Linked DNA regions of Homo sapiens. The protein of the gene in region 2 interacts with the protein of the main gene of each other region in a pairwise test. Each region holds a gene or a part of one and is shown on either strand. Other genes may lie near its edges. The genes, in order: KIZ, TACC3, SPATA18 and CKAP5.

Region 1 (7,687 bases), on a different chromosome or scaffold from region 2:
GAGACCAGCCTGGTCAACATGGCAAAACCCTGTCTCTACTAAAAATACAAAAATTAGCCAGGTGTGGTAGTGTGTGCCTGTAATCCCAGTTGTTAGAGGGTGCTGAGGCAGGAGAATTGCTTGAACCCAGGAGGCAGAGGTTGCAGTGAGCTGAGATTGCACAACTGCACTCCAGCCTTGGCAACAGAGTGAGACTCCATCTCAAAATAAATAAATAAATAAAAATTAAATTAAAAATTCAATTTCTCAGTTGCACTAGCCATATTCAATTGCCCAATAGCCATGGCTAATGGCTACCAGATTGGATATGTCTGCATAATGACTGCAAAATGAAATCTTGTCCTACTTTCATATCTATCATGGATTGAAATGTGTCCCCTGCACAATACATATGTTGACGTTCTAACTCTCAGTACCTCAAAATGCAGTCTTCTTTGGAAACAGGGTCAATGCAGATGTAATTAGTTAAGATGAGATCATACTGGGGAAGGGTGGGCGTCTAATCCAATATGATTGGTGCCTTCATAAAAAGGCAGAATTTGGAGACACATACACAGGTAGAACACCATGTGAACATGAAAGCAGAGGTCAAGATGATGTGTCTAGAAGCCAAGGAACACCAAAGATAGCCTGCAAACCACCAGCAGCCAGGAGAGAGGCATGCGGCAGATTCTTCCCCACAGCCCTCAGAAAGAACGAGCCATGCAGATATCTTGATCTTCAATTTCTAGCCTCCAGACCTGAAACACAATAAATCATGTTGTTTAAGACACCTAGTTTGTGGAGCTTTCTTACAGCAGCCCTAGCAAATTAATATAATATCCAAGCAGTTATTGACTAAATATACATGATTTAATTAAAAGCAGCATAGTGTGTACATTTTAAAATATAAAATGCTACTGCAGGCCAGACACAGTGGCTCACGCCTGTAATTCCAGCACTTTGGGAGGCCAAGGCAGGTGGATCACCTGAGGTTGGGAGTTCGAGACCAGCCTGACCAACATGGAGAAACCCTGTCTCTACTAAAAATACAAAATTAGCCAGGCGTGGTGGCATATGCCTGTAATCCCAGCTACTCAGGAGGCTGAGGCAGTAGAATCGCTTGAACCAGGGAGGCAGTGGTTGCGGTGAGCTGAGATCATGCTATTGCACTCCAGCCTGGGCAACAAGAGTGAAATTCCGTCTCAAAAAAAAAAAAAATTTCTGCTGCATTGAGAGGCCGAGATGAATCAGAACAGGACTTGTTGGGTTTCCCACTCAATTAGTGTTAGATCATGTCCCCTTTGTCCAATCACGCTTCTACACGACTGTCGATCATGCCTATCCAATAAAGTCCCCATAAAAGACCCAAGGGGACAGGGTTCAGGAAGCTTCTGAGCTGGCTGAACATGTGGAGGAGGTTCCTGGAGGGTGGTGTGCCCGTGGAGGGCATGGAACCTCTACACCCCTTCCCCCAGACCTCACCTTATGAATCTTTTCATCTGTATCTTTTGTGATATTCTTATAATAAACTGGTAAATGTAATGTATATATACATATATATGGAAATATGTTGAAATTAGAATTTCCCAATATTAGAATATATGTACAATTCTAATTTCAATATATTTTCCAGAATCAATTTTGTTTTTGAGCTACAAAAACAACAATTTCATTTGGTTCACCCAAAGATTCATGTGACTTCTGGGCCGAGACACTGGCTTCCCTTGCTGTTTGCTTAATGGGACCACTAGGGATCCATATTTTGAACTAGACTCGTTAATATTACATAGATTTCCAGCTAGGTGACTTTGGCCAAGCCCCTTATCTGCCCTGAACCCTTTTTCCCCTGTAAAACAAGGGGGTGGGGCTAGACTCCCTCTAAGTTCTAGCTAAGACATTCTAGGACTTAGAGGAAGCCTTGATCTAGGCAGACTTGATGACCCTTGGTCCAGTGAGCTAAAAGCAGGGCTGCTTACAGAAATCAGCTCAGCTAAATAAAGAGTTTGAAGAAAAATATTAAAATAGAGGGCTCTGGCAAATTAAATATTCAAAGTGAAGAACTCAGAATTTATTGAAAGCCTGTCACCATTTAAAATGCATAATTTTAGCATAAATACTCTAGAAATATTCCTTTTGTTTGCTATGTGTTATTGTTAATAAAGGAGATCCTACATCTAGATTTGTCATACGTCATTAATGAATCAACCATAGGATGTAAATTATAATTATTTTGAATTATCTATTTACTGTTTAATTACATTTAATTTTAGATTCTCCTAAAATGGCCTAATAAAAATTTTGGGTGCTAAATGACTGCCTCATCTGCTTACTCTGTGCTACTTGCTAAAATTAGTTATATTAATTGTTTGGGGATTCTTTTTCTTAAAAAAAAAAACTAACCCTGGGGGCATGGTCCTAAATAAAATATCCTAAAAATTTAATGCTTTTCTTTTCTTTGCCAGGGTTGTAGTAAAATGTTAGTTACACTAAACTCATTAAAATAAACCTTTGCACATTACCACTGAATCAATTGGATATAATCTGAATAAAAACTAAATAAAAGTCACATCAGTGCTACCCTTGGACCAGGGCAAGAAGGCCTCTGCCCTGGCTTCTGTGTATTAGAGGTTCTGTTCTAGCCCTTCTCTGCCCATGCTGCTCCACGCAAGGCAAGGAGGTCCCAGGGCCAGATGACAGGCCCACCTGGGGTGCTCACACACATACACACACATGCTCTTCTAGAACACGTTCTAAGTACCCAACACCCTTACCTTCCCTGCTCAAAGGGGCCCAAGCTGCTTTCTAAGGCTTTAAAAGGCCTCTTGGCTGGGTCTTTCCTGCAAGGGTGACCATCACTGGCATGCTCACTGCCCGGCCAAGAGGAGGCTGAGGTGGGGATGTAGGCAGAGTTGGGACTTGCTGGCTGGAGAAGAGGAGGAGAAGAGGCAGGGCACACACATCCCTGCTAGTGTATGAGACCCCCTCACAAAGCAAGACTGAGCCTGGGGTGGGAAATGGAGTTGGGGGGAGCTGGAGAAGCAGGCAAACTAAATTCCACCCTGGTTGTCCAGGTTCTTAAGAAGGCATATTGGTCAAAGTGGAGAGGAGAACACGTATTTTACCTAAGTTTGTTATCTTGAATTATAATTCAATATTTAGGCGGATGGTATGAGGGCCTCCATTCACACTCTTGCCCTGGAACTGGCAAATGTGAATGGAAGGCTGAGTAAAATCATAGTTTTGTGTTGTTGGCCTTTGAGTGTTCCATCTCTCTTACAATTTTAGTTTGTCACACCTTGCACCTTGTATGTGTAAGTAAAATTAATGGCATAGGAAAGAAACCAAAAGAAGTGAACAATAAGAGACTAAAGAAACTCTACAGGCCGGGCATGGTGGCTCATGCAAGTAATCCTAACACTTTGGGAGGCCAAGGTGGGTGGATCACCTGAGGTTGGGAGTTCAAGACCAGCCTGGCCAACATGGTGAAACCCCGTCTCTCCTTAAAATATAAAAAATACCAAAAAAAACAAAAATTATCTGGGTGTGGTAGCGCACACCTGTAATCCCAGTTATTCAGGAGGCTGAGGCACGAGAATCTTTTGAACCCGGGAGGCAGAGCTTGCAGTGAGCCGAGATCACGCCACTGCACTCCAGCCTGGGCAACAGAGTGAGACTCTGTCTCAAAAAAAAAAAAAAAAAAAAGGAAAGGAAGGCAGAGAAGCAGGCTAAGGCTTAATTTTTCTGCCCAGTGGGTTTTGAAATATGGTTGGCTTCCTTCAGGAAGCTTTTTCCCGACGTTGGTGATGATAATAAAACCTGATGCTTTCTATGTGCTGGGCCCACTTATAAACACTAACACATATTAACAATCGAATCCTAAACTAATCCTGTGTTAACAGCCTCCCACTTTACATATGAGGAAACCTGGGGTGACTTGCACACGGCTTGGCAGCTGGGACGTGGATAGGGAATGTACACCCAGGCAGTCTGGCTCCCGGGCTCCTGCTAGAGGATCCTACAGGACATTAGGAGCATTGTCCCTTAGAGCTGTCTGCACAAACGTCTGCTTCCCAAGCAACTAGTTATCAACTTTTCCCTCTCGCCAACGATACTGGCACCTGGAACAATCCTTAGATTCAGCACGGATTTTCGAGTAAGGGGTTGGTCCACTGTCGGGGCTGAGCACGGCTGTTTAGCATTTGAGGGTTTGTCTTTTTTTACTTGGTGTTTTGTGTCGCTTTTGAGTGCTGATATAATAGAACAAGCTTAGTACAGTGCCTGGCACTCAACAAATCCTGGCAAGAAAGGAGATCGAGGAAAAGAAGCAAGCGAGAGACGAAAGAAAGGGAGGGAATGCGCCTTGTAACATTAACGTAGCTTGTGCGAATCCTGGAAGGTGAGGGGAAAGGAGACACCGCGTCAAGGGAGAGAGGAGAGGGCACCGAGCGCCCGCCCCTCCGACGTGGTCCGCCCCGGCCTCACGACGCCCCGCCTCTGCCACGCCTCTTCCCCGCCCCATGCAGGTCTTCGTCCCGCCCCCCACAAAGCCGGCTTCCGCCCCGTCCCTCAGCGGCGCCCCGCCCCCACGGCGTCTTGCCCCGCCTCCTGCAGGCGGCCCGGCGCGGTGTTTACCCGCGGTGCATGGTGGGGCGGTCTCCTTCGGCAACCCCGGCCGAACGGCCACCCAGAGGCTGTGCTGAGCTGGCGCAGCGGCAGCAGCATGAGCCGGACCCTCGCATCGGCCGTGCCCCTGTCGAGTCCCGACTACTACGAGAGGCTGGGCCAACTCCAGCACGGGCTGCGGGACAGGTAAGGGCACTGGGGCGGGGGTGGGGAGTCGGCCCGCGCCGGGGGTCTTCCGCGTGCCCTGCCCCATTTTCCTTCCCGCTCCCCCGTCCGAGGTTCCCCGGGGCCCAGGCCCGCGCGCAACGCCCCCCAGGCTCCCAGTGGGGCCTGGAGGACAGTGTTTACTAGAGCCACCCCCTGTATTGGGGGTGGGAGCGGAGAGAGGTGAGAGACCGCCCCCGCCCCGTCAATAGCAGCTAAAGCCTGGTCTACGGTTTGAGGATGCGGCCGCGTCACAGAATTTGCCCAGAAGTGAAGGTGGGAGTTCTTCTGCCTGTCACTCTCCATCAAGCCTTGTGAGTTTCTCTTGTCCCCTTTTACACGCCCCCTCCCCACTCTCTTCAAATTGCCATCCCGCCGTGACAGCTGCACTGCATCAATGATGACAAGTCCTGGAACGCAGACGGTTGTGTGTGTGTGTGTCAAACATGTGCCCCCGTTTAAACTCAGGAGACTTTTAGGGGTAGCGAGGGCTGGCTAGATTTCCAGCGAAGGGATGAAATTTCCAGCTAGAGAAGTCCAGCTTCCAGAGGGTTCATGATGCCTTTGATTAAGATATGAAAGATGGGAACCACTGAAAACAGCTAGATCTAAGAGTGCATATAGAGAGAAAATTATACCGCAATGTACTATGAATAACCACGTAAAAGATAAATTGCTGGACCTCTTATTTAGCTGCTAAGTTAATTGGAGTTGTAACTCTCATTAGTTGACAAGAAAGGAAATACATTTTTGGATCTCTTGATAAACAAAACATTTAATGAGTGTTAAAAGTTACAAAATCATTCTAGTGAACAGGAGAGCTGTGTGCGTGACAGTGCTAAAATGATAACAATAATTACATGGAAAATAAAGGCAGAAGTGAGCGATTTTGAAAAGGAATTACATTTATCTTACGCTAGATTTAATTCTTGTCAGATATTTATAGAGCATCTACAACAGGCTTCCTTAATTGTCGTTAGCATTTTTTTTACCTTGTACTCCTTTTCTACGTCCTATTTTCTTTCTGACATGTCACCGCTCACCCATATCAGTGACCTCTTAATTTCTGACTTTAAAAAGAAATCTCTTCCTGTAGAGCCTTCCCTGTTTCAACCCATTCCCTAACTTTTGTGACTCTTGGCATTCTTACAGCACTCATAAATGGCATTCTTTTTGAACTATTAATTGTAAGTTATTTTTGTTTCCTGTGCTAGGAACACCTGGCTGTTTATAGTCCTTATGGCACAATAACTGTATAATAATTATGTACTTTATGATTAACACTTATTTAATTATTAAACAAGGTGAGGCTGTTGAAAATATATAAGGAATGTGAATCAAATTTTATAGCCTGTTCACGGTTCTGCATTTCGAGATTTGTTTTATTTTTAAGTCAGTACAAATCTGTTGCTGTGTGTGTTCATTTTTCATTTTAAGAATTTATAACTAACTCAAATTAATGCACACTGGACACAGTTATAGAGGCAAATAATTCTAGATACAGAAAAGGCTGCAGTAGAAATATCAAAACCTGGATTCTAGTCCACGAACAATTGTGTGACCTTGAGCAGGTTGTTCCACCTCTCTGAACCTTGGTTCTTTACCAGGAATGAGGGGGCTTGACTAATATGCAAAGTAAGGCCACAGATTTTTTTCTTTCTCTCTTTGCTAGAATAATGGGCCTTAAAGTAAAAAAAGAAAAAAAAGCTGAAAGCTGTAGTTTTGCAAAGCAATGTGTAAAGAATATTATTGTCTGTATCCAATTTGAGTGTTTGGATGTACCTTTTTGTTTGTTTGTTTATTTGTTTGAAACATAGTCTCACTCTGTCACCCAGGCTGGAGTGCAATGGCATGATCTCAGCTCACTGCAACCCCCACCTCCCAGGTTCAAGCGATTGTCCTGCCTCAGCCTCCCTAGTAGCTGGGATTACAGGCGCCCACCACCAACCCCAGCTAATTTTTGTATTTTTAGTGGAGATGGGGTTTCACCATGTTGGCCAGGCTGATCTCGAACCCCTGACCTCAGGTGATCTGCCTGCCTCTGCCTTCCAAAGTGTTGGGATTACAGGTGTGAGCCACTGCACCCGGCCTTGGTTGTACCTTTTTAAACAAAGAAACACAAAGCATCCCACTGATCACAGATACCACTGTCTCCTAAAATTCCTGAGTCATTTCATAGGGAGCAACCCTGGGTAGTCACAGCTGCTTTATCAATCCAGAAACTTCTGGGAAGTGGGAGACAAAAAAAAACTCCCTCTTTCTCAGCCCTTTTAGAGGTGGTCATTGCAATGTTAGCTGGTCAAATAACCAGCATATTTCCAGCCCAAGTCATGTTAGCTGTAGTTACACGTAGATGTAATTTTATCGTCTGAATGTTTTCCTATGTGTGTACAGTGTTTTTTCTGCATTGTGGTGAAAGTCAATAATTGAATCTAAAAGAGTCTAATGGAGTGACTTGTTACAGTGTGTATAGCACCCACAAGCATGGTAGAAACTTATAAGTGGAATTGGCTCTTACGGTTATACAAAAACATCCTTTTAAAAGGGCCCATTAGCCAGCCGCGGTTTTTTCAGTGCCTATATTGATTCAGAGTAAGATATCATAATAGTCTAGAAACTGACACTGAGATATTAGTAGAGTAAGCTGAAGATGGTATAGAATTGTGGTATCGAGACAAAAACAGAATAACAAGTGGCTTAAAAGTAGAAAACTCAGCAAGATAAGGACCACTTAGCTGTGTAAAACTGAAAGGTCCAAGTGAGGGGTGACTGAAAACATGAACTATGGGTAAGCATCCCAGGGATGGGTATTTCAAAGATTCTGAATAGAGATTTAATATGTAAGAATTGCAAGCCATGGAAAGGCTTTTCATTGAGG
Region 2 (7,024 bases):
TGCATTTCTAACATAAGTTACATGCAGGGGCCACCTGCCCCCGGAGCCCAGGCCTGCAGAGGAGGGGGCCAGCCACACTGTGGTCCCCAGGCCTGCTATTGGGTTACTCACACGGGCTCTGACACAGGGAAGGAGGTTGTTGGGGTACGGGGTCAGGGCCACATCACAGGCCTCTGCGGAGATGACACCTGGGGCCACTGTGAACAACACTGGTGTGGATGTTGGGGCTTGAACCCAGCCCTGCCAGCCGGCCTCCGGAACCACCCTGTCTGCACCTCCCTGGGGACCATCTGGCGACGGTAGCTCACAGTGGTGCCTGCAGACACCCAGCCCCTTTGTGTGCCTACAGCTCTCTTAGGGACAATTTAGGCCCGGAGTTAGAACAGGCTGAAGCCTGGCATGTACAGTGAGGATGGAGGGAGACAAGGCACGGGACCCTCAGATGTGGGGTGGGTGAAGATGGAGCTTCCTAAGCTGCCAGGAGATGCGTCTGGACTCGTGGGAGGGCGGGAGGAAAGGGGCGACACTCGGGCTCACGGCAGCAAGAACCACACTCACTGCTGCAAGGCCACCAGAGGCCAACGCCATGCCCAGGCCGGAGAGTCCCGGGGAGGCTGCTGGTGGGCAGCTGACTGCGGGGACACTGGGTGGAAGCCTGGACCCTCAGCGACCTGGGCAGTAGTGACAGGCCAGGGGCCGGCAGCTCTCTGCAATTCCACCCCAACCAGCAGGGGCAGGGATGGCAGGGATGGCGGGTCAGGCTGTTGGACCCCTGCCCACTGTTGGCCAAGCCCCAGAGCGGCCTGCAGGTTCTGTGGAATAGCTACTACCTGCGTCCTTACCACTGCATCCAGGTCCTTCTGGCTGTACTGGAGCAGGTCCACTATAGGTCCGGTGGACAGGGGTGGGCCCCCAGGCGCGGGAACACCTGGGGGTGGGCCTGGCACCTGCGGGAGATGGGGATGAAACAGGAACCCATTTCGCCCTTGCCTCTTACCTCTGACCTAGTGTGAGGGAGGAAAGGCCCACACAGGCCAAGAGCCTCAGACAGTGCATGAGGGACCCGAGACAGTGCGGCGAGGGAACAGCACAGCGGCCCCATGCCCCCAACAAAACCAAAGGCTCAGACCCCCAGGAATAGAAAATATAGGCCCTTAAAACAACTCGTTCCCTCAGACCACACACAAGACAGTTCAAGAGGGACTCAAGGACTTACAGGAATGTCCAGTGCTCCCAAGAAATCGAACTCCACAAGCTTGGCTTCCCGCGGACGTCCTGAGGGAGTCTCATTTGCACCGTGCATGCTGCCACCAAGCAGAGGCAGCCTCAGTCACTAGGCCCTCCCAGTGTTGAGTAGGACACAGAGGACCATGTGGACAAGCTAACCGGGCTCTTTGCTTTTTAGTTTAAAACCACTCAAGTCAGGGTAGTGGTAGAAAACGCAGACCCGCATCCAGCATGCCCGGCCTCTCTGCTGCTCCGTGCCCCCCTCCCTCACCTGCCCATCCCACGTGGCTGCTTGTCCTTCCGGGAGAGCACGGTGACGCTTCATTACCCACTGCAGGCTGAGCGGAGCCAGTGCTGCCTCATCAGGGGGCTGTTCACAGCTCAGAGCCTTTTTTTTTTTCTTTTTCCGAGACAGGGTCTCACTCTGTCACCCAGATTGGAGTGCAGTGGCATGATCTCGGCTCCCTGCAACCCCTGCCTCCCAGGCTCACCCGATTCTCCTGCTTCAGCAACCCAAGTAGCTGGGATTACAGGCGCCTGCCGCCTCACCCGGCTAATTTTTGTTATTTTTAGTAGAGATGGGGGTTCACTATGTTGGCCAGGCTGGTCTCAAACTCCTGACCTCAGGCGATCCACCCGCCTCAGCCTCCCAAAGGGCTGGGATTCCAGGTGTGAGCCACTGCGCCCGGCCATGTGTTAGGATTTGAAGGCCACACAGCCTCTGTCACACTACTCAGTTCTGGCCTTGTAGTGTGAAAGTTGCCACAATTTGCAAAGGAACGGGCATGGCTCTGTGACGATAAAACTTTACACAAACAGGCAGTGGCCAAGTCTGGCCCACAGGTGATAGTTTGCTGACCTCTATTTTTTGGTTTTTTTTTTTTTTTTTTTTTTTGAGATGGAGTCTCACTCTGTTGCCCAGGCTGGAGTGCAGTGGCGCAATCTCAGCTCACTGCAACCTCCGCCTCCTGGGTTCAAGCAATTCTCCTGCCTCGGCTTCCCAAGTAGCTGAGACTACAGGTGCATGCCGTCACACCCGGCTAATTTTTGTATTTTAGTAGAGACGGGGTTTCAACATGTTGCCCAGGCTGGTGGCAAACTCCTGAGCTGAGGCTATCCATCCACCTCGGCCTCCCAAAGTGCTGGGATTACAGGCGTAAGCCACCGCGCCTGGCCTGCCGACCTCTGTTTTAGAGGAAGTACTCTTAAAAGATTTAAGTTTAGATCTTTAATATACCTAGAACGGTGGCTGTAACCAGCAAGGCAGCAGCCCTGTGGCTGGAGGGTAGGCTGCCGTTGCTCCTGCCAGACACACAAGGGCTGCTCTGGCCTTGCTGCCCAGCCCACCCCTAGCACAGCTCCTTTCCAGTTCTGATCATCTCCCCCCGGTCTAGAAGCCTCTGTGCAGACAGCACACCTAGGAACAGCCTCCAGTCTTCCCACACTCAAGGCTTCATGCATGAGGGAGGGCCGGCGCACATACCTGCTGGTCTCGGTGGCCACGGGCACTGGTCTACCAGGACTGTCCCTCAGGAGGGGGTCGAACTTGAGGTATAAGGACTGCTTCCTCAAGGCCGACTCCTTAAACTGGGGACAAGAGGGCAAGTGATCAGGTCTGACTGCCATCCCCTAACACACACGGGGGCTAAGGGCCAGGGAGGTCACCTGCACACTCCCACCCCCGGTCACCCGCACACTCCCACCCCCGGTCACCCACAACCCTGCCCGAGACACCACCATTCCCAGCAGCACAGCGTGTCAGAGTTTCATCCTGGGCTAGGCACCAGGTAGAGAGCCCTAGAGCCCTGCCACAGGACACCACTTAGAGGAGGTGCTGCAGAAGGGGCCCTGGATTCACAGCCCGCCACAATGCCTGGGCCTGTGTGCAGCTGGGGGGACGTGGGCACCAAGGGACGCTCCGGGGGCAAGACCTGCCGTGGCTGCTCTCGGACACCCTGTGGGTGAGGCTTCGCGGAATTGCCTGGTACCTACCGAGGAAGTTCCAAACTGCTCCAGGTAATCCACCTCCGCGCCCGTGCCTAGAACTGAGAGGAGTGAATCATGCCGCCGCCATCGCCCCTCACCAGGGCCCTAAGGGCGGCGGGCTGGTGTCTCCCTCAGCACTCAGTGAGGCAGGATCATTCCAGCCAGCAGTATTTCCTCCCTTGGAGGTGTGGATGTTCGGGGCCTGACTGCTGTCTGCGGCAGGCGCCTCCTGGGCACCGCAGGGTGCTGAGCGGCATCCCCAGCCTCTACCCACTCCCTGCCAGCAGCACCTCCAGGTGTGACAACCACAAACATCTGGGGAAAGGCGGGGGCAAAACTGCTCTGGTTGAGAACTATTAGTCTTTAAAATTACCCTAGACAAGTCTTTTAATTTTTGATAATATAACTTTTGATTAAAACTAAGGGTGGAGGCTGAGGCGAGTGGATCACTTGAGCCCAGGAGTTCAACAGGGCAAAACCTTGTCTGTACAAAAAATACAAAAATTAGCTAGGCGCGGTGCTGCACTCCTATTACAGGGAGGCTGAGGCAGGAGAACTCCTTGAGCCTGGGAGGTGGAGGCTGCACTGAGCTGAGATTATGCCACTGCACTCCAACCTGGGCAGCGGAGGGAAAACTGTTGCAAAAAAAAAGAAAAGGTGCCTCATACCACATACAAAGATTAACTCAGAATGGATCAACACCCTAACTGTGAGAGTTAAAACTATCCTACTTTTTGTTTTGGTAGAGGAGGAGTCTTGCTACGTTGCCAGGGCTGGTCTTGAACTCCTGACTTCAAGTGATCCTCCGGTCTCGGCCTCTAAAACTATAAAACTCTTAAACTGTGGCTGGGCGCAGTAGCTCACATCTGTAATCCCAGCACTTTGGGAGGCCAAGGCAGGTGGATCACCTGAGGTCAGGAGTTTGAGGCCAGCCTGGCCAACATGGGGAAACCCTGTCTCTACGAAAAATGCAAAAATTAGTTGGGCACGGTGGCATGAGCCTGTAATCCCAGCTACTTGGGAGGCTGAGGCAGGAGAATCGCTTGAACCCAGGAGGCGGAGGTTGCAACAAGCTGAGATCATGCTACTGCACTCCAGCCTGGGCGACAGAGCAAGACTCCGTCTCGGGAAAAAAACAAACCAAACTGGTACTTTAAGACAGGGTCTTGATCTGGCTGAGATCCAGGCTGAGGCATCTCTAGTTTTGTCCCTTTCTTCATGCCTAGCAGTATTTGCTCATTCTCTCCTTTTCTCAATTAAGCTAAAAAACGGTTGCCAATTATTTAGTCTAGCAAAAACTTGTAGGTCCTTCTCTGCTATGGCCTTGTCAGTTTTCTTTTCTTTTTTTTTTTTTTGAGACAGAGTCTTGCTCTGTTGCTCAGGTGGAGTGCGGTGGCGCCATCTCGGCTCACTGCAACCTCCGCCTCCTGGGTTCAAGCGATTCTCCCGCCTCAGCCTCCCAAGTAGCTAGGATTACAGGCATGTGCCAACACACCCAGCTAATTTTTGTATTTTTAGTAGAGATGAGGTTTCACCATGTTGGCCAGGCTGATCTCAAACTCTTGATCTCAGGTGATTCGCCCTCCTCAGCCTCCCAAAGTGCTAGGATTACGGGCGTGAGCCACCGCACCTAGCCTTGTTGTCAGTTTTCATTTCTGCCTTTTTTTTCTTTCCTTCAGATAGGGTCTCGCTGTCGCCCAGACTGGAGTGCAGTAGTGCAATCATGGCTCACTGCAGCCTTGACCTCCTGGCTCAAGCGAGCCTCCCATCTCAGCTTCCCGAGCAGCTGGGACTATAGGTGTACGCCACCATGCCAGGTAATAAAAAAAAAGGTTTTTTTTGGTAGAGATGAGGTCTTGCCATGTTGCCCAGGTTAGTCTCAAACTACAGGGCTCAAACAATCCTGCCTCGGCCCCGCAAAATGCTGAGATTACAAGTGTGGGCCCCTATGCCTGGCCAAAAGCCAATACTTTGAAACATCATCTGATAAGGGACTTAACTTTGTATTTTTTCCTTTCCCTCACTTCTTGAATAAAAGGGATTTACCTCTTAAAACTCAGTAATAAAAACATAAGTGGCTCAATGGACAAGGGATCTCGACAGACACTTTCCCAAAGAAGATATCCAACGAGCACATAAAAAGACGCTCGTTCATGAGCCACCTGGGAACTGCAAATCAAAACCGCAACCAGATCCGCTTCCCACCCGCTGGAAGTCTAGGATCAACAAGACAGACAAGCAGCGCTGGCGAGGATGTGGAGAAACTGGAGCTCTCTTATAACTGCCAGTGGGAATGTGAAACACTGCAGCCACTCTGGAAGGCCACCTGGTAGCTAAAAGGTGAGCAGAGTTACTGTGACCAGCGACTCCACTCCTAGCTATGTATCCAGGAGAAATGGAAGAATACATCCACATAGAACTTACACCTGAACATTCGAGGCAGCACTACTCCTGACAGCTAAAAAGCAGAAACCAGCAAATCCATGAATGAATGGATAAGATGATGTGAAGCCAAGCTGCCACGGCAAGGACAGGAGCACCCACACCTGCTCCAGCATGGCCAGGACTCGGAAACACACCTCCCCGAGGGAGACGCCGGACACAGAAGGCCGTGCTGTGTGATTCCAGGGATCCTGCGTGAGGGTGACAGGCCCATCCCAGCTGAGCTGATATCCCCACATGGTGGCGGCCCACAACTATCCTGTCAGCGACAAACCCTACATGCCATTCGTGTCTGCTGTGTGCCTGGGTTTTCAGTTCTCTAAATTGAGATCTTATACCCACCTGGCTGTGTGTCCTTTAAAACAACTCAGCCATCAATTCCTACCAAATGCACTTTAATTTAAGGACCGTTCCACCTTCCAATCTTACGGACAAACCGTATTTATTTAACTGCAGCCTCCAATCTTACGGACAAACTGTATTTATTTAACTGCAGCCTCCAATCTTACGGACAAACCGTATTCAACTGCAGCCTCCAATCTTACGGACAAACCGTATTCAACTGCAGCCTCCAATCTTACGGACAAACCGTATTTATTTAACTGCAGCCTCCAATCTTACGGACAAACCGTATTTATTTAACTGCAGCCTCCAATCTTACGGACAAACCGTATTTATTTAACTGCAGCCTCCAATCTTACGGACAAGCCGTATTTATTTAACTGCAGCCTCCAATCTTACAGACAAACCGTATTCAAGTGCAGCCTCCAATCTTATGGACAAACCATGTTTAACTGCAGCCTCCAATCTTACAGACAAACCGTATTCAAGTGCAGCCTCCAATCTTATGGACAAACCGTATTCAACTGCAGCCTCCAGTCTTACGGACAAACCGTATTTAACTGCAGTCTGGTGTCTAAGGTTCAGGCTTCACATTTCATTATCAAGGGGTTCTGGGCCGGGCGCGGGGGCTCACGCGTGCAATCCCAGCACTTTGGGAGGCCGAGGCAGGTGGATCACTTGAGGTCAGAGTTTGAGACCAGCCTGGCCAACATGGTGAAACCCCGTTGCCACTAAAAGTACAAAAATTAGCTGGATGTGGTGGTACATGCTTGTAATCCCAGCTACTTGGGAGGCTGAGCAGGAGAATCTCTTGAACCTGGGAAGTGGAGGTTGCATTGAACCCAGATTGTGCCACTGCATTCCAGGCTGGGTGACAGAGCGAGACTATCTCAGAAAAAAAAAAGAAGGTCGTTTCAAGCAGTATTTCTGATGATCGAGTATCCAGTTGTTGACTCTACACTTGTATCTCATTAGCGCACTGCATTGTTCACCTCTCCTGCTCATTTTCCTGAGTCTACAGTTTCCA
Region 3 (6,924 bases), about 50 Mb from region 2:
ACAGGTGAAAAGTTTTTCAGGCAGAGAAAACAGTGAGTGCAAATGCCCTGAAGCAGAAGCATGTCCACATCTCTAGAACTGTGCTGTCTGAGACAGCAGCCATGAGCTGCATGTGGCTATCTGAATTTAAATTGGACTTAAGTCAAATTAAAAATTCTGTTCTTCAGTGTGTACTTGCCACATTTCAAGTGCCCAATAGTCACCTTATTGGACAATGCAGATATAGAACCTGTCCATCATCATAGAAAGTTCTATTGGACAGCATTGCTCTAGGACGAGCAAGAAAGCTGGTACTGCTGGAGTGGGCTGAGCAAGGGAGAGAGTAACAGATAAGGTTAAAGAGCTTAAAGGGGCACAATTGTGTAGGACTTTGAAGGTCACTGTAGGAGCTTTGGCTTCTTCTGACTGAAATAGGAAATTTGGAGTGTCTTGCAAAAAGAGTAACTTGATCTGACTTGACATTTAGAAGCATCTCTTTGGGTTGTTATTTTTGTAATAATCCAGGTGAAAGATGATCAAGGATGGAGAAGGGTGGTAGCAGTGGGGGTGGTGAAAAGTGTTTAGATTCCGTATGAACTTTGAAGTTAGAACCAACAGATTATGATGGTGAAAAGGGAGTGGAGTATATAATGATGAAGACGACTTAGAAAAATGAGACCTGTGGTTGGGGCATGGGAGAGGCTAAATTCCATTTTGGACAGATTTGACTTTGAGCATTCTGAGCATTTCAATAGCATTCACTATTGAAAGATGTCCAATGGGCAGTTGGAGAAGTGAGAGCTCAGATGGGAACACATCCTATAGAAATAAGATTCATCAGCATACTTGTAACAGATGAAGCAGGAGTGGAGGGGGAAGAATACAGGTGTCAACATTCCAATGTGATAATGATGCCTGCAAACTCAAGAGAAATGATGGAACCTGGGGAGTGGCCACAAGGTATGAAAAACACTGGTGGCTGTGAGTGCAGCCTCTACTGTAGAGAGATGAAGGGAAAACAGCTGGATGGAAATGGTTTTAATGAGAGCAGAGAATGGGATGTTATCAAGACAGGAAAATGTAATAAACTAAGGCACTTCTCATCACTTACAGGGAGTTTCTAAAATAATTGTTTATTAGTTCCAGACAAATCCTAGTGTTATTTGTAATAAACATTGTGACAAACAACATGTTTTTTTAAAATTCAGAGTTTAGTTAGGCCACTGGGCAAAAAAAAAGGGGTAAATACTGTATACATGTTAGAATTTCTTATTCTCAACCTCCTGAGACTAAGTAGTAGGTACTTTTAAAATTAGTTGGGGGGAACCCAAGTCTTTTATGATAAAGAGGTCATTTTAACTTTCCAGAATTCTTAATGGAGAAGGAATGGTCAGCGCTTGTTCTTTAAAAGGGAGCAAAGGACTGAACAGGAAGCACTAGAAAGGAAGGCTAAGGAGAAAGCTGTAGCTGCTCTTTGAGCTCCCCTCCACTTCAGGAGCACTGGTTAAAGGGTGAATGGGGAAGCCTAAGGACCTCATAACAGGCAGGATCTCAGAAACAAGCTAATCTAGGCTCAAAAACTTAAAATCTGAACAGGAAATTTACATATCATCTAGACCAATCTCTGCTATTTCACAGATGAGGTACTAAGACCAAGAGAAGTTAAATAATTTGACTCCGTCATTCAGCTAGTTCTATGCAGAGCCAAATGTAGAAACAAGGGGGGGCTAATTTCCGGTCCACAGTTCTTTTGCCTGGCCGCTCCACTTATTATGTAAGAGGGGAAATCCCTATTTAAGACGGACCGACCGAATGTAAAGCAAATTCAACACTCACCGTTCTATTTGGGGGAAGGGGGGAATTATGGGGAGGCAGGGTGCGAGTAGGGATTAATGAGATTTGAAAAGTGCTCATGGGTTTGGTGACAGAATACTGGCTTCTCACAAATGCCTGGAAAAAGGCCTGAATCCGCCCTGGTGTTGGAACTGTGCCTCAATTTCCAGGCCCACCAGCACGCAAGTGAAACCCGCAACGTTAACAAGTGTCCGTTTCGCTGATTTCTGGGTAAATAACTCCTGGGTGTGTGTTTATACAAATCCATTCTGATACAAACCCTGGGCAGGAGAGGGTTGTAGTAAAAAATAATTCGGGATTGGGGAAGCAGGCGGTGTGGATTGCGCTGGCAAGGGGGATGGGAAAGAGTGGCAGGCATGACCAGACCAGCCGCGGACAGCAGGGCTTCCCTATTGCTAGGTCGCCGGCGTCCTTAGTTACCACTGATTGGAAGCACTCTCCAGTCTCCGCAGCCTAGTGCTGCGCTCCGCAGGCCGCCTGCGCGCCGCCTCCCGAAGCTCTGAGACAAGGGCATGTACACACATGTCCTTCCTTCCCCAGCGATCCCGGTCGAAAGCTGAGATCCTGGTTAGGAATCGCAACCGCGGAGGCTTTGCAAAGTGGCCACCAACTCCAGCCCTAAGAAATCCCCGACAAGGGCTGTGCTGGAACCTATGGGAGGGCGAACCCCGGGGGTTTTTCACCCAGACTCACGTTGTACTCCTTCAGCCAGAAGTCTAGCTTTTCCTGCAACGTTCGTAAAGTTTCGTTTGAGACCAGTCTTTTCAGGTTTTCCGCCATCGCTCACTATTCCTCTCGGCCCCACGCTGCGCGATGGAGACTTGGGGGGACCAGGCGGTGGCCTCCGCAGGACCGTGGGGTGATATGGCGGGAAGGGTGTTCTCTTCTGGGGGGCTCAGAGCGCGGCAGGTGTTTCCATCCTCCCCCTCGGGTCGGACCTGGCCGGGTTCGGGAAGCCAGAGGGGAGGTGCCCTGGGCCGCAGCCGCCGCGCCTCATCCGCCGTCCCGCGCGGTCTCCTGGCTCCCCAGCAGCCGCCTGAGCCCGGCCATAGATACCCTGGCGATTATTAAACAAACCTTGACGTGGACGGGTTGGCTGCCAGGGACGCGCGCGGCCCGCGTCGTGGCAACGCCCGCGCCGCCCCGCCCTGGGTGACAGCCGCGCGCCCCAGGGGTGGACTGAGACGCGCAGCCGCGCGGGCTGGAGGGCAGCAGGGCGTCTACAGCATTCCTCCCCATTCGGGGTTCTGGGTGCCCACGCGTGTCCAGAAAAGCAGAAGTTAAGTCTCTATAGAAGTTTGGGGCTAGGCTCTCAGGAGATCACCTCTTTGGCCCCTTTATTCTTTCGCCTTTCATTCCTTTAATTCTTCATTTGTAGCGCCTTGGGTTTACCTGTATGAAACTTGTAACTAAAATTTCAGTACTTCTTACTTCTAGCTTTTACTTTGTTCCTTGACCCACTGGGTGGGTACCCAAGTTAATAGAGTTTAGCTCCAGGATGTTCACAAATTAAAGTTAATCCCTCAGGTTTGGATAAGATTTGGCAGTATGTATTTTAGTACTTTTTTTTTTAGAGTCATTGAGCACTCTAAAGCTTCATTTAATTCTGAATTCTCTAATTGGGACTTTCTTGACCTAGTTTGGCACTATTTCAAAAGTGTGTATTCTGCTACAGAAACAGGTTCAACTACTTAGGAAACCATTTCGACCATCTTTAAGCGCTTTCGAAGCAAGCTCTTTTATATACCATCAAAAAATGTGCTGATTATAAATCATTCCTATCCATTCATTAAAACAGCGGTGGGGAGCAGAGCCTCAGCTGGTTAGCTAGCTAGTTTAACTTAGTTTCATCTCTGTAGGTACTTGAAAATCTGTGAACACTGCATATATTCAAGTATTGTAAAATCAAGAATTTTCACCACCTCTCATTTTTTATTTCTCTTGATTACAGTGGCTTTACTATCTGCTAATGAAAATGAAAGGCTCAGTTTTGGAGCCTGTGTTCCTACTATTTTCTGTAGACCACAAAATAAGGACTATAGGGGTATAACATGTTATTTGATTGGAGTAGAATAATAATTTCTAATGTTAAAAATACCCACTCAACAAAACAGCTAAATATTCATTAAACAACTTCATATATATATATATATATATATATATATATATGTAAAATGAATTGAGAAAAACTTCAAATTTCTCAATTTGGACCTAATAATTACATATTTCTACAGGCATTTGGAATCTTTGAACAGTCCCATTTACTTATTCATAAAAACCCATATTGGAACATTTATGTCAGATAAATTAGAGGTAAAGGATTTTTCCTTGCTGTGAGCACCTTAATTAGCCTGTAATCCTTGGTTTCATCATCTGTAAAAGGAAAATAATTCTCTCATAGGATTATTATGAAACTTAGTAAGATAATTCATGTATTTAGTACAATGCTTGGCAAAATGCAGTAGCAATTGCTCTAGTAATTGCTGTTTATTAAATATAAACTAATACTGGCCTACATTTGCTATTATTAAGAATGTGGATTAGTATGTTTATATTTAATAAAGAAAACTAGTTGTAAACAATCTAAACCTCCAACAATAGGGTAATGGTTAAGCAAATAATGAAATGTTGCACACTAAAAATCTTGTTGTTGTAGAATATATACTATCTACAAATTTTCACTATAACGAAAAAGGCAGAACACTAAATTGTATACACTGTGTTAAATTACACAATGTGAACCCAAGGTATAATTGTGGGTTATTTTAATTGCTCTTTTATATTTTTCTGATTTTTTCAAGTTTCTATCATGAATATGAATTGTTTGTATGAAAACTTATTCAGAAAAAAGTTACCCCAAACAGTTACTAACATGGTTTGGCTGAGTCCTTGCCAAAATCTCATCTTGGATTCCACGTGTTGTGGGAGGGGTCCAGTGAGAGGTAATTGAACCATGGAGTCAGGTCTTTCCTGTACTATTCTCGTGATAGTGAGTAAGTCTCACAAGATCTGGTGGTTTTGAAAAAGGGAATTTTCCCTGCACAAGCTTGCTGCCGCCCATATAAGATGTTACTTGCTCCTCCTTGCCTCCCACCATGATTGTGAGGCCTCCCTCGCCATGTGGAACTGTAAGTCCATTCAACCTCTTTCTTTTGTAAATTGCCCCGTCTCAGCAGCTTGTAAACCAACTAATACAGTAAATTCTTATGGGGATTGCAGCGCCACTGAAAATATATCCAAAAATGTGGAGCACTTTAGGAACTGAGTAACTTTCTGGAACTGAGTAACAGGCAGAGGTTGGAACAGTTTGGAGGACTCTGAAGAAGACAGGAAAATGTAGGAACGTTTCGAACTCCCTAGAGTCTTGTCAAATGGCTTTGACCAAAATGCTGATAATGATATAGACTATGAAATCCAGGCTGAGGTGGATGGAAATGAGGAATTTGTTGGGAACTGGAGCAAAGGTGACTCTTTTTATGTTTTAGCAAAGAGACTGGCAGCATTTTGCCCCTGACCTAGAGATTTGTGGAACTTTGAACTTGAGAGAGATGATTTAGGTTATCTGGCAGAAGAAATTTCTAAGTAGCAAAGCATTCAAGAGGTGACTTGGGTGCTGTTAAAGGCATTCCATTTTGAAAGGGAAGCAGAGCATAAAAGTTCAGAAAATTTGCAGCCTGACAACGCAATATAAAAGAAAATCCCATTTTCAGAGGAGAAATTCAAGCGGGCTACAGAAATTTGCATAAGTAACAAGGAGCCAAATGTTAATCCCCAAGACAATGGTGAAAATATCTCCAGGGCATGTCTCCAGGGCAGCCTAGGGACTTGATGCCCTGCGTCCCAGCCACTCCAGCCATGGCTGAAAGGGGCCAATGTAGAGCTCTGGCCATGGCTTCAGAGAGTACAAGCCTCAAGCCTTGGGAGCTTTCATGTGGTATTGAGCCTGCAAGTACACAGAAGTCAAGAGTTGAGGTTTGGGAACCTCTGCCTAGATTTCAGAAGATGTATGGAAACACCTAGATGCCCAGGCAAAAGTTTGCTGCAGGGGTGGGGCCCTCATGGAGAACCTCTGCTAGGGCAGTGCAGAAGGTTAATGTGGGGTGTGAACCCCCACAAAGAGTCCCTACTGGGGTGCTGCCTAGTGGAGCTGTGAGAAGCCTCTGTCCTCCAGACCCTAGAATGGTATATCCACAGAAAGCTTGTACTGTGTGCCTGCAAAAGCCACAGACACTCAACACTGGCCTGTAAAGGCAGCCCAGAGGGAGGCTGTACCCTGCAAAGCCACAGGGGCAGAGCTGCCCAAGACCATGGGAACCCACCTCTTGCATCAGCATGACCTGGATGTGAGACATGGGCTCAAAGGAGATCATTTTGGAGCTTTAAGATTTGACTGGCCAGATGCGGTAACACACACCTGTAATCCCAGCACTTTGGGAGGCTGAGGTGGGTGGGTCACCTGAGGTCAGGAGTTTGAAACCAGCCTGGCCAACATGGCAAAACCCTGTCTCTACTTGAGCGTGGTGGCGGGTGCCTGTAATCCCAGCTACTCAGGAGGCTGAGGCAGGAGAATCACTTGAACCTGGGAGATGGAGGTTGCAGTGAGCTGAGATCACACCACTGCATTCCAGCCTGGGTGACAGAGCAAGACTCTGTCACCAAAAAAAATAAATAAATAAATAAATAAATAAATAAATAAATAAATAAATAAAATAAAAATAAAAAAATTTGACTATCCCACTGGATTTCAGACTTGCATGGGGCCTGTAGCCCCTTTGTTTTGGCCAATTTCTCCCATTTGGAATGGCTGTATTTACCCAATGCCTGTATCCCCATTGTATCTAGGAAGTAACTAACTTGCTTTTGATTTGATTTGATTTTTTTTTTTTATTATACTTTAAGTTCTAGGGTACATGTGCACAACGTGTAACTTGCTTTTGATTTTAAAGGCTCATAGGTGGAAGGGACTTGCCTTCTCTAGGATGAGACTTTGGACTTTGGACTGTGGACTTTTGAGTTAATGCTGAAATGAGTTAAGACTTTGGGGAACTGTTGGGAAGGCATGATTGCTTTTGAAATGTGAGAACATGAGAT
Region 4 (7,024 bases), on a different chromosome or scaffold from region 2:
TCACTTGGGTTCAGGAATAAGGACTGGCTCAAAAATGTCATCCAGTTTGTGCTGAACAAGTTCTGGCATTTCACATCGGACTGTACCATTGTCATTCTCAATCTCATCTAGATCCAGCTGGAATTCTCGGCGGACCATCTGGGCTGCCTCAGGATGCCCACTCATGCTTCGGGCTTGGCTAAGGGAAGCAAAAGGAGGCTCCTGAACTAAAAGAGACTTCTTAACCAAAGGGCAAGAGTAGCACTGTCAGTTGCCCCAAAGCTTCAGGACAGATGTTCAACTTCTGGTTTCAGCCCCCCTGAATGATTTAAGTCCCTGAGTCTAAGCAAGTGCCTTTAATAGGTAACAACATTGGTTCATGAATATCCTAAGAGGGCAGATAACTTTAATTTGTACTTACATTACCTGCCAAGTTATAAGTATTTGTTCTAGTTCACTAAAGCCAACAAACCTTGTATTTCTATTCCTGAAGGGGCAGAAAACAATAAAATATATTTGTATTGACTCAAAGTTCACTACTTATGAGCAAATATATAAGAAAAATTTAGACTGGCTGGTTCTTTTCCACCAAATTAACCAGTGCTTTAATTTTGCTAATCATAAGTACCATTCCATGCCGTGTTCAGCACATTTTATATTTTGTGAGACCACCAGTCACCCCTTTTTAGAATATTCACTCTTGACAGGTCAGGGCCAGCTTTACATCCAAGAAATAGGGATTCAAAGTTTCCAAATTCAAGTTCGTTAAAATTATACTCATGACACAACCCAAAATAGAGCTGTCTTGCTTAGGAGGCAGTATTTTGAGTCCCTAAGCCAATTTTGGGTTGCATGTATTTTAATTAGCCTTATCTCAAGAATAGGAAACTAAGCACAACCAAGTATAACACAAAGAAGAAAGTGAATCAGTATTTTAGCCACATGACATTGAACTTTTGTGGAAGACTTGATTCATGGGGTACTTATGGACACCCTCTACCCTGATTATAAACTCTAAGCTAGTCACCCTCCAGAGGGGATGAATCCAAGTCAGAAGTTAGAAAGATATAAGAGCCCTGCTAATGAGAAATTAGCAGGCAGTACTTACATCCTATAAGTGCGATACATAATTCTGTCCACGGAAAAGCAGTGAAAGAAGGCACAAGACCATTTAGAAGTGGTTTTGAGACAAAGACAAAGACAATGAAGACTGAAGAATCAAACATTTGGTTACAATACATTTACCCAGACACTCTGTCATGCATGATAATGGCTACAAGAACTCAAGATTATGTTACAGGACAGGCTGTGAGCACACAAGGCAAAGGCCATGGAGATGCTCTCAGACAAGTATCTCTATCTACATACTTGAGTTTGGAAGACATGTCCTCAGCTGGTCCCTTGCGTAACATGTTGGCATTGGAGCTTATGTTCTGTGCACGCTGAGGTTTCTCTTCCACCTGTTTTATTGGTGCAGCAGAGGGTCTCTTTGCTGACCGCTTAATCCTCTCCTCGAGCATGCTCATATCCTTTTCAGAAAGCTGTAAAGAGGCCAAATTTAGAAACCTAACTGGATAACACAATAATATCTATTTTCATATCAAAACAAATAGAACCTTCTATGTTAGGACATGTTTACTTTCAAAGCACCACATTTCAAAATCAACTACTATTAATACCTGCCTAGCTGCTATAGGAAGAGGAGATATGAAAGAAGGAGAGGGGCTGGGCACAGTGGCTCATGCATGTAATCCCAGCACTTTGGGAGGCCAAAGCAGGAGGATCACTTGAGCCCAGGAGTTTGACACCAGCTTGGGCAACATGGTGAAACCCCATCTATACATAAAGTATAAAAATAAGCTGGGTGTGGTGGCACGCGCCTGTAGTCCTTGCTACTCAGGAGGCTGAAGTCAGAGGATCACTTGAGCCTGGGAGGTCGAGGCTGCGGTGAACCATGATCACACCACTGCACTCCAACCTAGGTGACAGAGCAAGACCCTGTCTCAAAAAAAAAAAAAAAAAGAAACGATAAAAAAAAGAAAGCCAATTAGTAACTACAAATAAAAAGGTCAAAAATTAAATGAAGCTTCCTCATTTTTTGTTTTGTCACCACTATCTAGCTGTGTGACTATGGGCAAGAAACTTCATTTTTGGTCATCTGTAAAATTCCCAACTGCTTTATATTCTTCACTGGGTAGTAGTGAGAATTTAATTAGAAAATATAAGTAAACATATTTAAGCCCTGTGTAAATACATGGTGACACTATGAGGTAACTGAAGACGGAGGTCCAGACTCACTCAAACGAAATAAGAGGTCAGAGGCAGAACCTAATGTGAGTGAAAAACTGGCTCACGGCTGTAGCGCAAGATGTGATCTGACAGATACTAGCATCCACACTATACACAAATAAGCACTTTTTAACCAAAAACTCGATGCAGTAAAAATTACAGAGCAGACTGCCAGGCAGAATTTAAACCCGGGACTAGCTCAGATTTCTTGATTCAAAAATAGCACTCATTTCTAAAGCAAATTTGCTATGAATAGAATGCTCAGAAAAGAAAACTTGATTTCCATTAAAACAGCCTAATCAGAGACACCTCAAGGGTCTATCTGGATTCTAGGACACATTGATAGGTTGAGTTGACTAAAAAGTAGTAAAAACTTAGCTACAGTTGAGAGGACAGGAAACCTAACACCTAGGAGATCTTGCAATTCTTTTCACGACATGCTGACAGTGTTCAGAGAAGTCACTCACATTTCCAATCAGTTTGAACACCTGATCCCCATGTACATTGTACACCGTTACAATGGTGTTGAGTGCAGCATTGCGTACAGCATTGTCACGGTCTCCTATGTGAACAGCTATTTCCTTTAAGGCTTTTCCTGGGGTTGGTTGGCAAACATTCATGCCATAGGACTCAACCAGACATCCCAGCTCTTCCAGGCACTCTGATGGGGGAGAAAGGCTAGATTAATGAGACAACACATATTTGGGACAGAGACTTATCCTTACTAGAGAAATTTCCCTTGGCATATATGAAGGACTAAAACCTTACTCTGGCTCTGCCTAGGATTTTTTGTTTACTGCCTTTTATCAGTGAAAAAATGGTATTTCAGCAAGTGCTCCTGAAAGGAAGAGATGCCTGTGAGTCAGATGGCCCCTGTGCACTTGATTTTGTCACCAGGGTGATACTGAGTGGTGCCTGTATCACCTGATACCATGGCTCCACCAGTGTGCAACTCATCACTCTCACAGTCTAAATCAGGAGGTTGGAATCAACTACATAGGCACTGGAGAAATTTATTTGTTCATCTATAAACTATTTCTTCTATAGGCTACTGCTGCAGAGATTCACATCTCAGTTTAAACTGTTTGCTTCACCTGCTCTCTGCTTAGAGTTTTTGGATTTGGTTCCTTCCATGATAAAGGGAAACATCTTGCTAGCTGGGTAGACAAGGCACATCCGGTTCAGGATGGCACGAACATCTTTACGAATGACATCCTTTGGTTCTCCAACCTAGTCGATAAGGAAAATAATGATTAAGTGAGGCATTTCCTAAGTAGCAATGATTCTCCCATGCATTACTATGTTTTGAAAGAATAGGGAAATAGGGATAAGTAGGGAAGGTACCGTGATATAATCAGTAAAAAAGGGAGAGGAAATAAAAGTACAGAAACTGAGGTCAGCTGGGAACTTAAGCAGTCTCCCAGAGAGAGAACACCACATTACCTTGACGACAAGATAGGGGATGAAGGAAGATGCTTCATTCTCAGTAAGATGATATTCTTCTTCACTTAGCAAGGTGAAGAGCAATTTTAAATATTCTAGTGCTTTCATCAGGACGCTTGTATTGGTGTCAAAAAACCTCAGGGTAAGCCACTTTAAGATAAGATCCAGGCAACCAATAACTCCTTCTTTTTCACTCTCCAAGTGCTTAAAATAAAACAAAACAAAACTCCCACAAATAAGAATAATCAAAATCTTAATTCTACTAGGCAAGTGTCTTTTAAATTTTATTGGAGCCCAAAAAGAAAATGACAGATTTTTAAGCCTTCAATTAAGACCTAAAAAATATACACACACATTCATTTATTCTACCAAATAACAAGACAGCTCTAAAAATAGAGAACATAGTATATTCTACTTCCAAGTCATGCAAACTTCAGATTATTTCATAGGGCTCGGTATTTTTACATGTCTGAAATACATGTATATTTATCTATTGCAGACTTACATCAACCATAACAGCAAGGGCTTTGTTATGATGCTGAAAGTCTGAGTGAAACATCTCATCTTGTAACCATTTAGCCACACAGCTAGACATTTGAGTCTTTAGTTGCTCAATGTATTCATCCCGTGGGGTAGTAAAATTCCACTTTAGCACCTGGAAAAAACAAACGGTGAAAAGGGGCTACAGGGTGTTCAACTGAAATGAGGTAGAGAGCCTTATATAATGCAGCTGCAGGAACAATAAAATATTTAAAAATTCAACAATATTCATTTGTAATTAAATATGAATGCAAATTTCAAGGTGTCATACTTCTTGAAGCTTAACAACTCTGAAAATCTTCTAGGAATAAAAATTTTTGGAATTGTTTGTTTTTGAGACAGAGTCTCACCTGTTGCCTGGGCATGGCAGAGTGCAGTGGCATGATCATAGATCACTGTAGCATTAACCTCCCAGGCTCAAGTGATTCTTCTGCCTTAGCCCCCCAAGTAGCTGGGACTACAGACATGCACCACTATGCCCAGCTAATTAAAAAATTTTTTTCGTAGAGATGAAGTCTCAATATGTTGTCCAGGCTGGTTTTGAATTCCTGGGCTCAGGCAATTTGCCTGCCTTAGCCTCCCAAATTGTTGGGATGACAGGCATGAGCCACTGTGCCTGGCCTTGCAATTCTTACTAAAGAAAAAAAAAAAATTAATCCTACATATAACTATATAACATGGTGGACACTGCTGCCACATCTTTGATAGAGAGAAAATTTGAAATATCTATCAAAATTATGCATATCATCATTCTAGGAGTTTAATATAGATACACTCACATATGTGTACAAAGACCTACATTCAAAGATATTCACAGCAGCAGTGTTTGTAATAGTGAAAGACCAGAAACAACCTAAATGTCCAACATAGTGGGCGAAGGATAAAGAAAGGTACATACATACAATGCACCAATACAAACAGTGATACACACATATATACACAGATACGAATGATCTTTCAGATATTTCAAACATCATTAAAAGAAAATAGTGAGATACAGAACAAACAGTACGGCATGTCTGTATATGCCATCTGTATAAAAGGAGGGCTATATAAAAATATACATATGATAGTAGAGGTATAAAATATTTCTGGAGTAATACATTGAAAAAATGAGGACTAATATCCTCCCTGTGGAGGGATACTGGAACAGAGACATGCTTTTCTTACTATACTTTGCACTTTCTGTACTGCATATAATTTTTAAAAAAGATTATGTATTTTGAAAACAAATTTAAGTATCTAATGAAATCAAAGTAACATAAATGACTGAACTAGCCATTTATACAGTCACAAAGTCTGCCTTGTAAGGTCTTAAAAAGAAGGATTAATGAAGAAGCTTATACATCCAATTAATTAAAAAAAAAAATCAATGAAGATACCAAAAAAGCTACTAAATCATTTATTTCTATTTACAGGGAAAAATAGGCAATAACTCTATTCTATAGTTTCTTTTGTAGGAATTAATGCTCCCATAAACTAAATAATATAATTTATAAGCAAAAGAAACACTTAATTCCTAGATATTAAACAATAACATGAATTCAGACAGCAAAACTATTCTTGAATAACAATACAAGCAAAAATCTCCTGACGATTCTTAATCCTTCCTTACCTTCAATCCTTTTTCATCTTTCATCCTTTGCTCTTTTCCATTTGGAACAACAATAAAAATAGGCCCGGATTTGTCTTCATCCTCCTTTAAGCTGGTTTTGCTTGGCATCTTCTTCCCTTGTGCACTCTACAACCAAGGTTCAGGGAATACTGATTAGCTTGGCCACTTCTCCTTAAGAATATGATGCTGCTGCCCAGTAAAAGGGCACTGTAGAAAACAGAGATATCTTTCTACGTGATATTTCACATGAAAAAAACATGCATCACAGAATCTTGTATATGTTTTTGAACAGGTTCTCTAGAAATTTTTCTGAGAATATTCTTAAGTAACTGTTGGTTAGTTCTTGGACTGGCATGTTATGTAGTTGGAAAAACTGCTATTACTGATCATTAGTCTAGGTCACAAACTTTTTGTTTTTGTTTTCTTGAAATCTTCAACACTATTTATAGCTTTCCATATTAATGACATCTTTTTTTTTTTTTTTTTTTTTTTGAGACGGAGTCTCACTCTGTCGCCCAGGCTGGAGTGCAGTGGCGTGATCTCAGCTCACTGCAATCTCCACCTCCTAGGTTCAAGTGATTCTCCTGACTCAGCCTCCTCAGTAGGTGGGACCAAAGGCGCCCACCACCACCCCTGGCTAATTTTTGTATTTTTAGTAGAGACAGGGTTTCACCATGTTGTCCAGGCTGGTCTCGAGCTCCTGACCTCAAGTGATCCACCCACCTCAGCCATTAATGACATCTTGAATGGCATTTACACATTTCCAAACACTTAGTTTGAAAGCTTTTCTGTTTCTTTCCATTGATATTTAAATGTATCTCTTATCATAACAGTGTAACTGAAGACCTTTTGAACTTGCTTCTAGAGAAAGTTACAAGAAATGCTTTAAATATTTAAGTCACTAAAGTGGTTTTAAAAAATAATCCAAGATTTAAAATCTTCATATCAGATAGAAAGAAAATAGTAAACAATAGTACACATATTTAAGGTAAAATTCAAATTTCATTACTGGAATCATTATTATTATAAATGTAGCATGGCCACTATTTCTAGTTGGCCACAATTTCTTTCTAGTATAAACACTAATGTCATTCAGACCAAACAAATATGAGATCATTTATATGAAACTGCTTCGTAAGTTTAAAAAGATTGGGAAAA

What was found.
Region 1: the proteins of TACC3 (region 2) and KIZ interact in binary tests that used the Homo sapiens proteins (3 or more experiments, as listed by UniProt).
Region 3: the proteins of TACC3 (region 2) and SPATA18 interact in binary tests that used the Homo sapiens proteins (3 or more experiments, as listed by UniProt).
Region 4: the proteins of TACC3 (region 2) and CKAP5 interact in binary tests that used the Homo sapiens proteins (3 or more experiments, as listed by UniProt).

Annotation. Positions count from the first base shown.
Region 1 is NC_000020.11:21,121,414-21,129,100, forward strand, and holds the start of KIZ (centrosomal protein kizuna), read left to right. Parts: upstream 1-4,702; coding exon 4,703-4,791; intron 4,792-7,687. UniProt on the Homo sapiens protein: Centrosomal protein required for establishing a robust mitotic centrosome architecture that can endure the forces that converge on the centrosomes during spindle formation. Required for stabilizing the expanded pericentriolar material around the centriole.
Region 2 is NC_000004.12:1,731,521-1,738,544, reverse strand, and holds part of TACC3 (transforming acidic coiled-coil-containing protein 3), read right to left. Parts: intron 3,273-7,024; coding exon 3,220-3,272; intron 2,815-3,219; coding exon 2,711-2,814; intron 1,305-2,710; coding exon 1,217-1,304; intron 948-1,216; coding exon 843-947; coding exon of another isoform or gene 831-842; intron 198-830; coding exon of another isoform or gene 153-197; exon of another isoform or gene 1-152. UniProt on the Homo sapiens protein: Plays a role in the microtubule-dependent coupling of the nucleus and the centrosome. Involved in the processes that regulate centrosome-mediated interkinetic nuclear migration (INM) of neural progenitors.
Region 3 is NC_000004.12:52,047,394-52,054,317, reverse strand, and holds the start of SPATA18 (mitochondria-eating protein), read right to left. Parts: upstream 3,015-6,924; 5' UTR 2,614-3,014; coding exon 2,527-2,613; intron 1-2,526. UniProt on the Homo sapiens protein: Key regulator of mitochondrial quality that mediates the repairing or degradation of unhealthy mitochondria in response to mitochondrial damage.
Region 4 is NC_000011.10:46,759,265-46,766,288, forward strand, and holds part of CKAP5 (cytoskeleton-associated protein 5), read right to left. Parts: intron 5,993-7,024; coding exon 5,867-5,992; intron 4,367-5,866; coding exon 4,217-4,366; intron 3,916-4,216; coding exon 3,712-3,915; intron 3,499-3,711; coding exon 3,363-3,498; intron 3,236-3,362; exon of another isoform or gene 3,125-3,235; intron 2,930-3,124; coding exon 2,736-2,929; intron 1,521-2,735; coding exon 1,348-1,520; intron 179-1,347; coding exon 5-178; intron 1-4. UniProt on the Homo sapiens protein: Binds to the plus end of microtubules and regulates microtubule dynamics and microtubule organization. Acts as a processive microtubule polymerase. Promotes cytoplasmic microtubule nucleation and elongation. Plays a major role in organizing spindle poles.